Homo sapiens: one gene and its partners. The protein of the gene in region 1 purifies or fractionates together with the protein of each later gene. This does not show direct contact. Each region holds a gene or a part of one and is shown on either strand. Other genes may lie near its edges. The genes, in order: NFATC2IP, ACTR6 and ELF2.

Region 1 (3,749 bases):
AAAAAAAGAAAAACGAAATGCAGAATCATAGGCCTCTTGCAGCTGCCATAGTTAGTTAGGACAGGATTTCATGACTTCAGCATTACTGGCATTTTTTGGACTGGAAAATTCTTTGGTGTTGGAAACTGTCCTGTGCATTGTAGAAAGTTTAGCGGCATCCTGACTTCCATCCCTGGGAAGTATTATACCTCAGCCCCCTCGCCCTCCACATTTTGATAACCAATATTGTCTCTAAACATTGCTATATGTCCCCGCAGAGGCAAAATTGTCCCTGGTTCAGAGCCACTGATCTAGGGTTTCTTATCATTTTTTAATTTTCACAGTATTTATTTTTGTGGTTTGTGATGATCTTTTATTGACAGCGGGCAAATAGAAATTTCTATATTATAGAAAATAATACCTGGTTTCCTTTCATGAGAAATTTAAGTTAATTTTAAGTTAATATGAGCTATCTTTATACTAAATAGCAGTCTCATCCCCTGCCCCCTTTCCCAATATTATCATGTGGCCCTGTGTGTGCCAGGGGCTCCGTGGTCTCCTCCTTTCCTAGGACCTTCTTGAAGCCTCTGACTTGTTTCTTCTTGGCCTTCGCTGGCCTCCCTTGGATAACCCCCTTCTACCTTCTCTTCCTCTGCCCCCAGAGGCAGAGCTGGCAGATTCGAGTGGTCTCTACCATGAGGGCTCCCCATCACCAGGCTCTCCCTGGAAGACAAAGCTGAGGACTAAGGATAAAGAAGAGAAGAAAAAGACAGAGTTTCTGTGAGTGAGGCCAGGGCCCTTGGGCCCTGGGAGCAGGAAGTGAGTTGGAGGGGTAAGCGGAGGCAGGCAGGACTCTTGGGTGACTCCTGAAAGGTTAAGAAGAAGGGATAGAAGGACTGTTGAGTTTCATGTGGGGAATGAATCGCTTGGGGAAAAGAGGTGGCTTACCCCGGAGGGTGACAGTGAACCCTTCAGGATCACCCTTGGGAGTGGATTCTGAGACCCTAGTAATGTGAGCTTAAGGTATGGTTCCAATCCAGCTTCCCTGTCCTCTCTGTGCTTCTCTTTCTTCATCTATAAAACCCCGTTTTATAGCCTGGGAAACATAGAGAGACCCTGTCTCTACAAAAAATAAAAAAAAATTAGCCTGGCATGGTGGCGCATGCCTGTGATCCCAGCTGCTCGGGAGGCTGAGATGGGAAAATCGCTTGATCCCAGGAGTTAGAGGCTGCAGTGAGCCATGATCGTGCCACTATACTCCAGCCTGGGTGACAGAGTGAGACCCTGTCTCTAAAAAGCAAACAAACAGACAGACAAAAAATACCCCCAAACCTGGGGATAATAGTGGCATTTGTGTCAATGAATTGCTGAGTCAATCAAGAGTTAACACTTGGCTAGGCACAATGGCTCTTGCCTGTAATCCCAGCACTTTGGGACGCCAAGGGGAGTGAATCACTTGAGCCCAGGAGTTCAAGACCAGCCTGGGCAACACTGGACATATGGTAAGTGCTTGCCGTCTGTCGGATATTATTGGACATTTTCCTGGGAAGTGACAGTCTCAAAAATGAGGCATTTTCTTCCCTAATATTCAGGTCATGTAAATATAAAAATGATGCCTCAGGCTTTCCCTCTCCCCTACCCCTGCCTTCCAGTGAAATGGGGGTTATTGGAAGCTGCTTCCTCTTTATTTTTTAAATGTATTTTTACATTTTTAGAGATAGGGCCTCACTCCATTGCCCAGGCTGGAGTGCAGTGGCGTGATCATAGCTTACTGCAGCCTCAAATTCCTGGGTTCAAGCGACCCTCCCACCTCAGCCTCCTGAGTAGCTGGGACTACAGCTGTGTTCTACTATGCCTGGCTAATTATGTAGAAATAGGGTCTCCCCATCTTGCCCAGCCTGGTCTTGGACTCCTGGGCTCGAGCGATCCTCCTGGCTCAGCCTCCAAAAGTGCTGGGATTACAGGTGTGAGCCATTGCGTCCGACTATGCTTGATTGTCCAAGGATCTGATTTCTAGGATTTGTGGGGCCAGTCTCTCTCCATTGCCTCCGTCCTGCTGTCTCTTGCTTCTACAGGGATCTGGACAACTCTCCTCTGTCCCCACCTTCACCAAGGACCAAAAGCAGAACGCATACTCGGGCACTCAAGAAGTTAAGGTGCCAAGTGCAGGGGCTCTGGCTGGGATGGAAGAGGGCAATCCGGGAGGGTGGCTGACTCCAGTTGACCCAGAGTCCTGTCTGCACTGCAGTGAGGTGAACAAGCGCCTCCAGGATCTCCGTTCCTGTCTGAGCCCCAAGCCACCTCAGGGTCAAGAGCAACAGGGCCAAGAGGATGAAGTGGTCTTGGTGGAAGGGCCCACCCTCCCAGAGACCCCCCGACTCTTCCCACTCAAAATCCGTTGCCGGGCTGACCTGGTCAGATTGCCCCTCAGGATGGTGAGTGCCTGAGGCCCATGGGAGAAGGACCCAGGAGCTGCTTCTGGAGAGATGGTGGTGTCCAGCAGGGGTGTCCTGGCAGAAGGGACTGTCATCCTTTTCCCATCCTGCTCTCTAGAGCTGCCCATCATTCTTTTCAGTCTGTCCTGCCTTCACACTTTTTGTTTCCTCTGTCTGCATTTTCCCAACGCTCCCCTCTCTTTCTGGCAAACTTTCTACCCATTCTTCAAGGCTCCTCATAAGCATCCTGTGTCTTTTTTTTTCCTTCAAAAAGTGGTCTTACTGTGTCCAGGCTGGTTCCGAACTCCTGGGCTCAAGTGATCGTCCCTCATTGACCTCCCAAAGTGCTGGGATTCCAGGTGTGAAGCATCCTGTCTTCTAAGAAGCTTTTTTTGGTAGTCTCTCTTGCCTTCCTCCCTAGGAACCTGGGCTTCCCTCCTGGGCTTGCTCTCACTGCCCTGGACACAGCAGATGTCACTCAGTCACCCTGAACTCCACCAGCTTCCTGGCGAAGCCTGATATTTTTGTAGGGATGACCCTGTTTCAACACCAGGAATGATAACAGACATTACCATTACTGATGCACAGTGCATCAGTCAAGCAACTAAGGCAGAGGCTGCAAACTGGCAGCCCATGGCTTTTCCAACAGTGTGTCTGCTTTCTTTGTAGACTTATTTTATTTTATTTTATTATTTTTTATTATTTTTATTTTTTGAGACGGGGTCTCACTCTGTCGCCTAGGCTGGAGTGCAGTGGCACGATCTCTGCTCACTGAAACCTCCGCCTCCCAGGTTCAGGCGATTCTCCCACCTCAGCCTCCCGAGTAGCTTGGACTACAGGTGCCCGCCACCATGCCCGACTAATTTATGTATTTTTAGTGGAGGCAGGGCTTCACCATATTGGCCAGGCTGGTCTTGAACTCCTGATCTCAAGTGTTCCCCTGTCTCAGCTTCCCAAAGTGTTGGGATTACAGGCATGAGCCACCGTGCCTGGCCTATTTTATTTTTTAAACATAGAGATGGGGGCCAGGCATGGTGGCTCATTCCTGTAATCCCAGCACTTTGGGAGGCCAAGGTGAGAGGATCACTTGAGGCCAGGAGTTCGAGACCAGCCTGGGCAAAATAGTGAGACCTTGTCTCTACTAAAAATAAAAAAATTAACCAGGCATGGTGGCACATACCTGTAGTCCCAGCGACTTGGGAGGCTGATGCAAGAGGATCTTCTGAGTCCAGGAGTTGGGGGCTGCAGTCAGCTGTGATCATGCCACTGCACTGCAGCCTGGGTGAGAGAGCAAGACCTTGTCTCTTAAAAAAAAAAAAAAATGGAGATGGGATC
Region 2 (3,749 bases), on another chromosome or scaffold:
ACCCCATGATATAGATACTACTGCTATCTCATTTTAGAGGACGCTGAAGGGCAGAGCGGTTAACTGATGTACCAAGGTCCTAGCAGAGTTCTAAAGGAGGCCCCTGGGGCAGAAGCCTACGGTTATGAATGCTTGGGAGGGCTGCACCGGACATCCACGGGATGCTGGGGGTGAGAAGACACTAGAGAGGGGTCAGAGGGAAGGAGCAGAGGGAGATAATGGGTCAAAGTGTCTGAGGAAGGAGACTGGGCTGGGTAGCCCCAGCCACCCGGGCCTAAGCCCAGGTGGAGGGGAGGAGATAGGAACGAGGACGGGATGTGGAGAAGTGGGGAAAGGCAGGCCGACGTTGGCAGGGTGCGAGGAGGCCTTGGAGAAAGGAGGGTGGATGGGGCAGGCCCCCAGGGGAGGCAAGGAGCGCCGACAGAAGGGCCCAGGCGCTTGCAGGGCGCGAGTTCCCACCTCAAGCACCGTGGCGGCTCCCGCGCTGCGCACCTGGAAGTGCGCAGGCTGCTCCGCCGCCTCGTCGGCGCGCTGGTAGCTGAAGCAGGCTTCTGCTATGTCCAGGTGGCCGAGGGGCAGCGGGTCGTGGGGGTTCTTGAAGTAGCAGAGGCAGCAGCGGCGCCCGTCCAACACGAACCGACGGCTGCGGTAGCCACGCAGTCGCGCTGGTTCCCGCGCGGTACCCGCCCCGGGCTCTGCAGCCTCCCCATCGCCGTCGCTGCCCTCCTCTGCCCGGGTTCCGGCCCCGGTATGGCTGCCTGCGCGCCAACCGTTTGTTCCCCGGCCCCCGCGCCTTCGCGCTGCGGCTGCTGCGCTCCCTGCCCCCGCGGTGCCCCCTTCCCGCCGCCCCGCTCCTCTCTCAGGCGCTCAAAGTGGCCTGGAATTTGTAGAACGCCCCCCTCCAAGCCCGTTGGCAGTTGTCCTAGCCCGCTGGCCCTTGCCCCCGCCCGCTGGCCGTTGCCCCCGCGACGCCCCGGAAGCCAGGTCCTGCCTCCCGCACCTGCCAAGTCCCCGCCCTGCCGGAGTCTCGCTCTGTCGCCCAGGCTGGAGTGTAGTGGAGCCATCTCGGCTCACTGCAACCTCCGCCTCCCCGGTTCAAGCAATTCTCCCGCCTCAGCCTCCCGAGTACTTGGGATTACAGGCGCCCGCCACCTCGCCCGGCTACTTTTTGTATTTTTAATAGAGACGGGGTTTCGCCGTGTTGGTCAGGCTGGTCTCAAGCTCCTGACCTCAAGTGATCTGCTTGCCTTGGTCTCCTAAAGTGCTGGGATTACAGGCGTGAGCCACCGCGTCCGGCCCAAAAGCCTTTTTTGGATGAGAAAGACTCACTCAGCTTCGTCCTGAAGAGCAAGTGGGCTGGGGAAGAGGAGAGTATGAATGTGAGTCCAAGAGCAAGTTTTGCACTTTTTTCTTCAAAGAATGTCACCGTCTGAAGAATGCGATTGGAAGACACACACACACACACACACACACACACACACGCAGCCGGTTCTCTACAGGATTAGAAAAAACTTGCGCGAATTAATCTGCGTAGTTAAAAACAAATACGAAATGAGCGAGAAAGCACATAGTAGTCAAATCTCGCCACCACATAAACAGGTTAAGTTTGGAAGCACAGCCCCTAACATTCGGTGCTGCTTAGCATCTCCGACTTCCGGCGTCCTCCGTTGCTAAGGTGACCAGAGGCGCGTCCTAACGCTCCGCCCAACAAACCATAGAGTACCGGAAAAAGCTCGAGCAGAGGGGTCGGAAAGGGAAAACAACTACGGCTGCGGTGTGGTTGGTGGTGAGATGACGACCTTAGTGCTGGATAATGGAGCTTACAACGCCAAAATCGGTTACAGCCATGAAAATGTGTCGTAAGTACTTTCTTTCTCCGAGGGACAAGATATATACGCCTAGTGGTTTCATGTGCTACGTTTCATCTCCGGACATCAATGAACTGCAGACACCCCCGCGCGGCCCTGACTTAGCCAGAGGGATTCCCTGGTTGGAGCTGGGTGGGTGATTGTGATGCTTTGAATTGAAATTGATTTTGGTTTTAGTTTTGGGCTGCGAGGCCCCGGAAGTGGGATATATGTTTTATTTCGTAACAGGAAATAGCCAAAGAAAATAGGCTTATAGAGATGCGTTCCTGACAGAAGGGTCCGTAAAGTTCATCAGCCTTTGGAAACTATGGGCACGGTGTTTGGGTGTATGCGGATTTTCCTGGGTACAAGATTATAGGTTTCATTAGATTCTCAAAGGGTTCTATGACCCTCCAAAAGTCTAAAAATCACGGTCTTAGGATCTAGAGGCTTTGAAGACTTTGGCCTACTGGCCGACCTAGTTGGTAAGGTCAATTAAACAGAAGTACTGTTAATACAATGGCATTCATAACATGTATAGTCATAAAATATATGTTTGAATAAATAAGCAAACCTAAAGACACGCCTTTCCTTTATCAAATTAACAGAGCATTAAAAAAAATTCTTTCCTTCCTCCCTCCTTTCCTTCTTTTTCATTTCTTTTGAAACAGAAATGAAAGAGGGAAATCAAACTGAGTAGGAATGTAAATTGTTACAATCTTTCTGGAAAACGTTTTGGCAATGTGTATCATTATCATTGTCACCGAGGCTGGAGTGCCGTGGTGCGATCTCAGCTCACTGCAGCCTGAATTCAAGTGATTCTCCCGCCTCAGCCTCCAGAGTAGCTGGGATTATAGGCGTGCACCACCACTCCCAGCGAATTTTTTGTATTTTTGTTAGAGACGGGGTTTCATCATGTTGGCCAGGCCGGTCTCGAGCCCCTGGCCTCAAGCAGTCTACCCGCGTTGGCCTCCCAAAGTGCTGGTATTAGGGGCGTGAGCCCTACACCCAGCTGACAAAGCAATTTTTTTTTTTTTTTTTGGAGAGGGAGTCTGGCTCTCTTGTCCAGGCTGGAGTGCAGTGGCACGATCTCGGCTCGCTGCAACCTCTGCCTCCCGGGTTCAAGCCATTCTCATGCCTCAGCCTCCCAAGTAGCTGGGACTACAGTTGCGCACCACCACGCCTGGCTAAGTTTTGTATTTTTAGTAGAGACGGGGGTTTCACCATTTTGGCCATGCTGGTCTGGAATTCCTGACCTCGTGATCTGCCTGCTTCAGCCTCCTAAAGTGCTGGGATTACAGGTGTGAGCCACCGCACCGGGCCATGACACAGCAATTCTGTTATTACCTAGAGAATTAATTAGAAGTGCTTTGTATTATTCATAGTCATCGTATACAGGCAGCCAAAAAATGGGAAGGAAGCTAAATAATCAGGAATAGCATATTGGCTAAATACACCAAAATACAACCTGAGACTGATAACAAATTCAAGCTTCTTAAAATTATGTCTTCAAAGAACATTTAAACATGTAGAGAAAATGCTGACAGTATTATAAGTGAAATAAGCAGGTGTAAAACATTTTTTTACAGTATTATCCCAGTGTCATCTCGTATACACATACAGACACATTTGTATGCATACATGTGTGTATAATTAATAATGGCTCTAGTTTGTCTTCCAAACCAGATTGTAAGCTCATGGCAAGCAGCAAGAGGCCCAGGTGGGTGGATCACGAGGTTAGGAGATCCAGAGCATCATGGCTAACACGGCGAAACCCTGTCTCTACTAAAAATACAAAAATTAGCCGGGCGTAGTGGCAGGCGCCTGTAGTCCCAGCTACCTGGGAGGCTGAGGCGGGAGAATGGCGTGGGCCTGGGAGGCGGAGCTTGCAGTGAGCCGAGA
Region 3 (3,749 bases), on another chromosome or scaffold:
TAAGTTTTCTTAAAGTTGAGCTACACAGGCTGATTGAATCCTTTGCTTCAGTGAAGCTGCAGATAAGAGTAAGCAGGGTCACCTAAAGATAGATTTACTTAGAGGTTTGGCTGCCTCTCTGGAACCATTTAGCTTTGAACAGATTTCCATAAATGGAAAGAGCAACTGGAGAGACCCAGTACCTTGTGGATGATGTGCAACAGGTGGTAAAACAGTCATTGGATTTTTAAAATAAATGCTTTCCAAATGACTGTTGTTTAAGACTGAGGCTTTAGCATTTAGGGAACTTTGAGATGAACTGGATTTTTTCCCCCAATTAAAAGTTTCCTGGAAACAATTTTAAAAGATTCATATCGTTAGTGTATAGTGCTTATGAATTTGTAATATGACTTTATGAAATTTGTATAAACATTTACTTTTAGTTCCTTTAGGGGACATCTTAAAAAAAATCTGTCAAGTTAGAGACTCTTAAATATTCATGTTTCAGAACGTCTTACTAAGTTAACTGTTCAACATTTTAAGTCAGGATGTGAAATTAATATATTATTAAGATAATAAAATTTGTTCTTGAATTGCTGATTTTCTTGTAAGGTCAGTGGGTTGTCCTTAATTCAGTACATAAAATAAATACCTGCCTGGCGTGATGGCTCATGCCTGTAATCCCAGCACTTTGAGAGGCCGAGGCGGGTGTATCACCTGAGGTCAGGAGTTCAAAACCAGCCTGGCCAACATGGTGAAACCCCGTCTCTACTAAAATACAAAAATTAATCCGGTATGGTGGCATGTGCCTGTAATCCCAGCTACTCAGGAGGCTGAGGCAGAAGAATCGCTTGAACCTGAGAGGTGGAGGTTGCAGTGAGCTAGATCATGCCACTGCACTCCAGCCTGGGCAACAGAGCGAGACTCCGTCTCAAAAAAAATAAAAATAAAAATCCGCATGTCTGCTCCATGAAAAGTCTATGTTGGGAACCATGGCATATGTAAAGATGGGTTAAGCTAGCCCCCCAGACCTCAAGAAGTTTATAATCTTACAGGAATGATAAGAAATTATCATATTCTTGCTCTATGAGAGAGATTAAGTTGCTTACCTCAGGTAACAGAAATAAGTGGCAGAGACTGGAACCCAAGCTGTTGGACCTGAAAGCCCAAACCACTGACTGCTGTACACATTGTTTTACAAGTAACATAATCAGCAAAGCATAAAGGAAGTGCTAGAAGAGGAGAGATACAAAGCGTGGTAGAATTTGAAGGCCTCATGGGAAGAATAAACTCTAAGAAAAAGTCTTAGGTTAAAACCCACTGAGGCTCTGAAGAGAGCGAGGTTAATTATAAAGAAAGTTCTCAAGTACTCTGGCAGTAAATATAATGCATGTTGTTATCCATCTTTAGTCACCTCTGCCTGGAGAGTACAGTTGTCCCTCAGTATACCTGGGGTATTGGTTCCAGGATGTCTCCTCCACCTGGCAGATACCAAAATCCTAGAATGCTCAGTCAAGTCCCTTATACAAAATGCTGTAGTATTTACACTGTATTTTTAATTGTTGTATTTTTTTTATTGCCTCCCCCTCCCCTGCAATATTTTCTTTTTGTTTTTTTTTTTTGAGACAGTGTCTCACTCTGTCGCCCAGGCTGGAGTGCAATGGTGTGATCTTGGCTCACTGCAACCTCCGCCTCCCAGGTTCAAGCGATTCTCCTGCCTCAGCCTCCTGAGTAGCTGGGACTACAGGTGCCCGCCACCACGCCCGGCTAATTTTTATGTTTTTGATAGAGATGGAGTTTCACCATGTTTGTCAGGATGGTCTCGATCTCTTGACCTCGTGATCCGCACGCCTTGGCCTCTCAAAGTGCTTACAGGTGTGAGCCACCACACCCGGCCCCCCTGCAATATTTTCAATCTGAGGTTGTTTGACTCTGCTGATGCGGAACCCTTGGACACGGAGGGCTTACTCTACTCAGTCATTCAAGAGGGTCTGTAAGAATTGAATTAATTGATTAAATTAGCGCAGCATGGTTCTGTTAGGTGCCCTGGCTTTAATGGCAATACATCAAAATATATAATTGCCCTCACAGGGTTTTTAATCTACAACCAGCCTCTCCCTGACCCTTCCTCCCTTCCCACAAGTTAGTATTGGCCTAAAATTGATGCAGGGTTCAAATTTCAAGGATCTTTCTTTGTTTTCCTTTGAGTAAGATTCAGAAACTTCTCAGTAATTTCTTTTGTTGTTGTTGTTTTGAGACAGAGTCTCACTCTGTCGCCCAGGCTGGAGCGCAGTGGTGCGATCTCAGCTCACTGCAACCTCTACCTCCTGGGTTCAAGCGATTCTCCAGCCTCAGCCTCTTGAGTAGCTGGGATTACAGGCATGTGCCACCACGCTCAGCTAATTTTTCTATTTTTTGGTAGAGACGGGGTTTCACCATGTTGGTCAGGCTGGTCTTCAACTCCTGACCAAGGTCTACCCTCCTTGGCCTCCCAGAGTGCTGGGATTACAGGCATGAACCACCATGCCTGGCCAACTTCTCAGTAATTTCTAATCAATGTCATTGGTTACTTCATAATCAATATTCATTTTATATCAGTATTCATTTTATAAAATGTAGATATTAGCTTTTTAAAAATTATTTCTGTAATTTATATAGACGAATAGATATCAATGGCTTAGAGTTAGTCATGTTATTTTATATTTATTTATTTTTCATTTCTCTTTCAGGAGTGAATATGTTTATTTCTTAGTAATATGTTTTAGTCATGTGTTTAGTGTATTTTTAATTGAGTAGAACTTATTTTTCCTCCAGTGGAAGCATCAGTTCACAGCAGTAATGCACACTGTACAGATAAGACAATTGAAGCTGCTGAAGCCCTGCTTCATATGGAATCTCCTACCTGCTTGAGGGATTCAAGAAGTCCTGGTATGTAAACTGTTCATTCTTATGTTAAACGTGTCATACTACTTCATATGTCTAAAATAAAGTTTTTTGTTTTTTTAATCCAATGGAATTGTTGGGAATTCTCAAAGGTACATTACACATGAATACATGACAGCAGTAATTGAACTTTATTTGTCAAGGCCTCCAAGTCTTAAATACTTAATTTTCATAACAAATGATACAGAAAATACCCACTATAGATAGACAAATATTTATTAAATAGCTATTTGTACTGTCATGTCTATTTCCTTAACTCTGGGCAAGTTATAAGCCTTCATAGTCCTTCAGAGTATGATAGATGGGAGCAGTTGCCTGTTAGGACCACTTTCAATCCTTTATTCAATGATAAATAGGCAGTAACTCCAGAGAACCACACATGGTAGAGAGACAAGGGAGCTTTTGACATTTTTTTCACACATCCTTCAGTGTGAGTTTTTATTTTTTTGTGGTCCCTCTTAGTCTTTAAGAAAAACTTTGATAGTCATTTTGTCCAATCCTGATTTGTCCTAATTTTAATTTAATGCCCAAATGTTAATTTGACTTGATACAAAAATACTGGCTCACCTTCTCATTGGGATTCACAATAAGAGCAACCATACTTCTTAATTTGAATAGAATCCTGTGTATTACTCAGAGATATGAGAATAAATTTGTAGCATTTTTGGTCAGTCTATTAATCTAAGATAGTATGTATTAATTGTATCTCTTAATTGAAATAGAAATGTCATATCTTGGTTATTTGTGCACATTAGAAGGAAGCCAGAGCAACATTACTGTATGTACTAGAATACCAGATAACAATTTGTACCTACTGTTTTAGTGAC

The links.
Region 2: the proteins of NFATC2IP (region 1) and ACTR6 purify together in Homo sapiens (affinity purification with mass spectrometry; 2 studies listed by BioGRID and IntAct, with this or other methods). This does not show direct contact.
Region 3: the proteins of NFATC2IP (region 1) and ELF2 purify together in Homo sapiens (affinity purification with mass spectrometry; 2 studies listed by BioGRID and IntAct, with this or other methods). This does not show direct contact.

What each region holds. Positions count from the first base shown.
Region 1 is NC_000016.10:28,953,924-28,957,672, forward strand, and holds part of NFATC2IP (NFATC2-interacting protein), read left to right. Parts: exon of another isoform or gene 1-641; coding exon 642-759; exon of another isoform or gene 760-1,075; intron 1,076-2,054; coding exon 2,055-2,135; intron 2,136-2,227; coding exon 2,228-2,414; intron 2,415-3,749. UniProt on the Homo sapiens protein: In T-helper 2 (Th2) cells, regulates the magnitude of NFAT-driven transcription of a specific subset of cytokine genes, including IL3, IL4, IL5 and IL13, but not IL2.
Region 2 is NC_000012.12:100,199,061-100,202,809, forward strand, and holds the start of ACTR6 (actin-related protein 6), read left to right. Parts: upstream 1-1,754; 5' UTR 1,755-1,791; coding exon 1,792-1,859; exon of another isoform or gene 1,860-2,000; intron 2,001-3,749. UniProt on the Homo sapiens protein: Required for formation and/or maintenance of proper nucleolar structure and function. Plays a dual role in the regulation of ribosomal DNA (rDNA) transcription.
Region 3 is NC_000004.12:139,072,612-139,076,360, reverse strand, and holds part of ELF2 (ETS-related transcription factor Elf-2), read left to right. Parts: intron 1-2,793; coding exon 2,794-2,907; intron 2,908-3,749. UniProt on the Homo sapiens protein: Isoform 1 transcriptionally activates the LYN and BLK promoters and acts synergistically with RUNX1 to transactivate the BLK promoter. Isoform 2 may function in repression of RUNX1-mediated transactivation.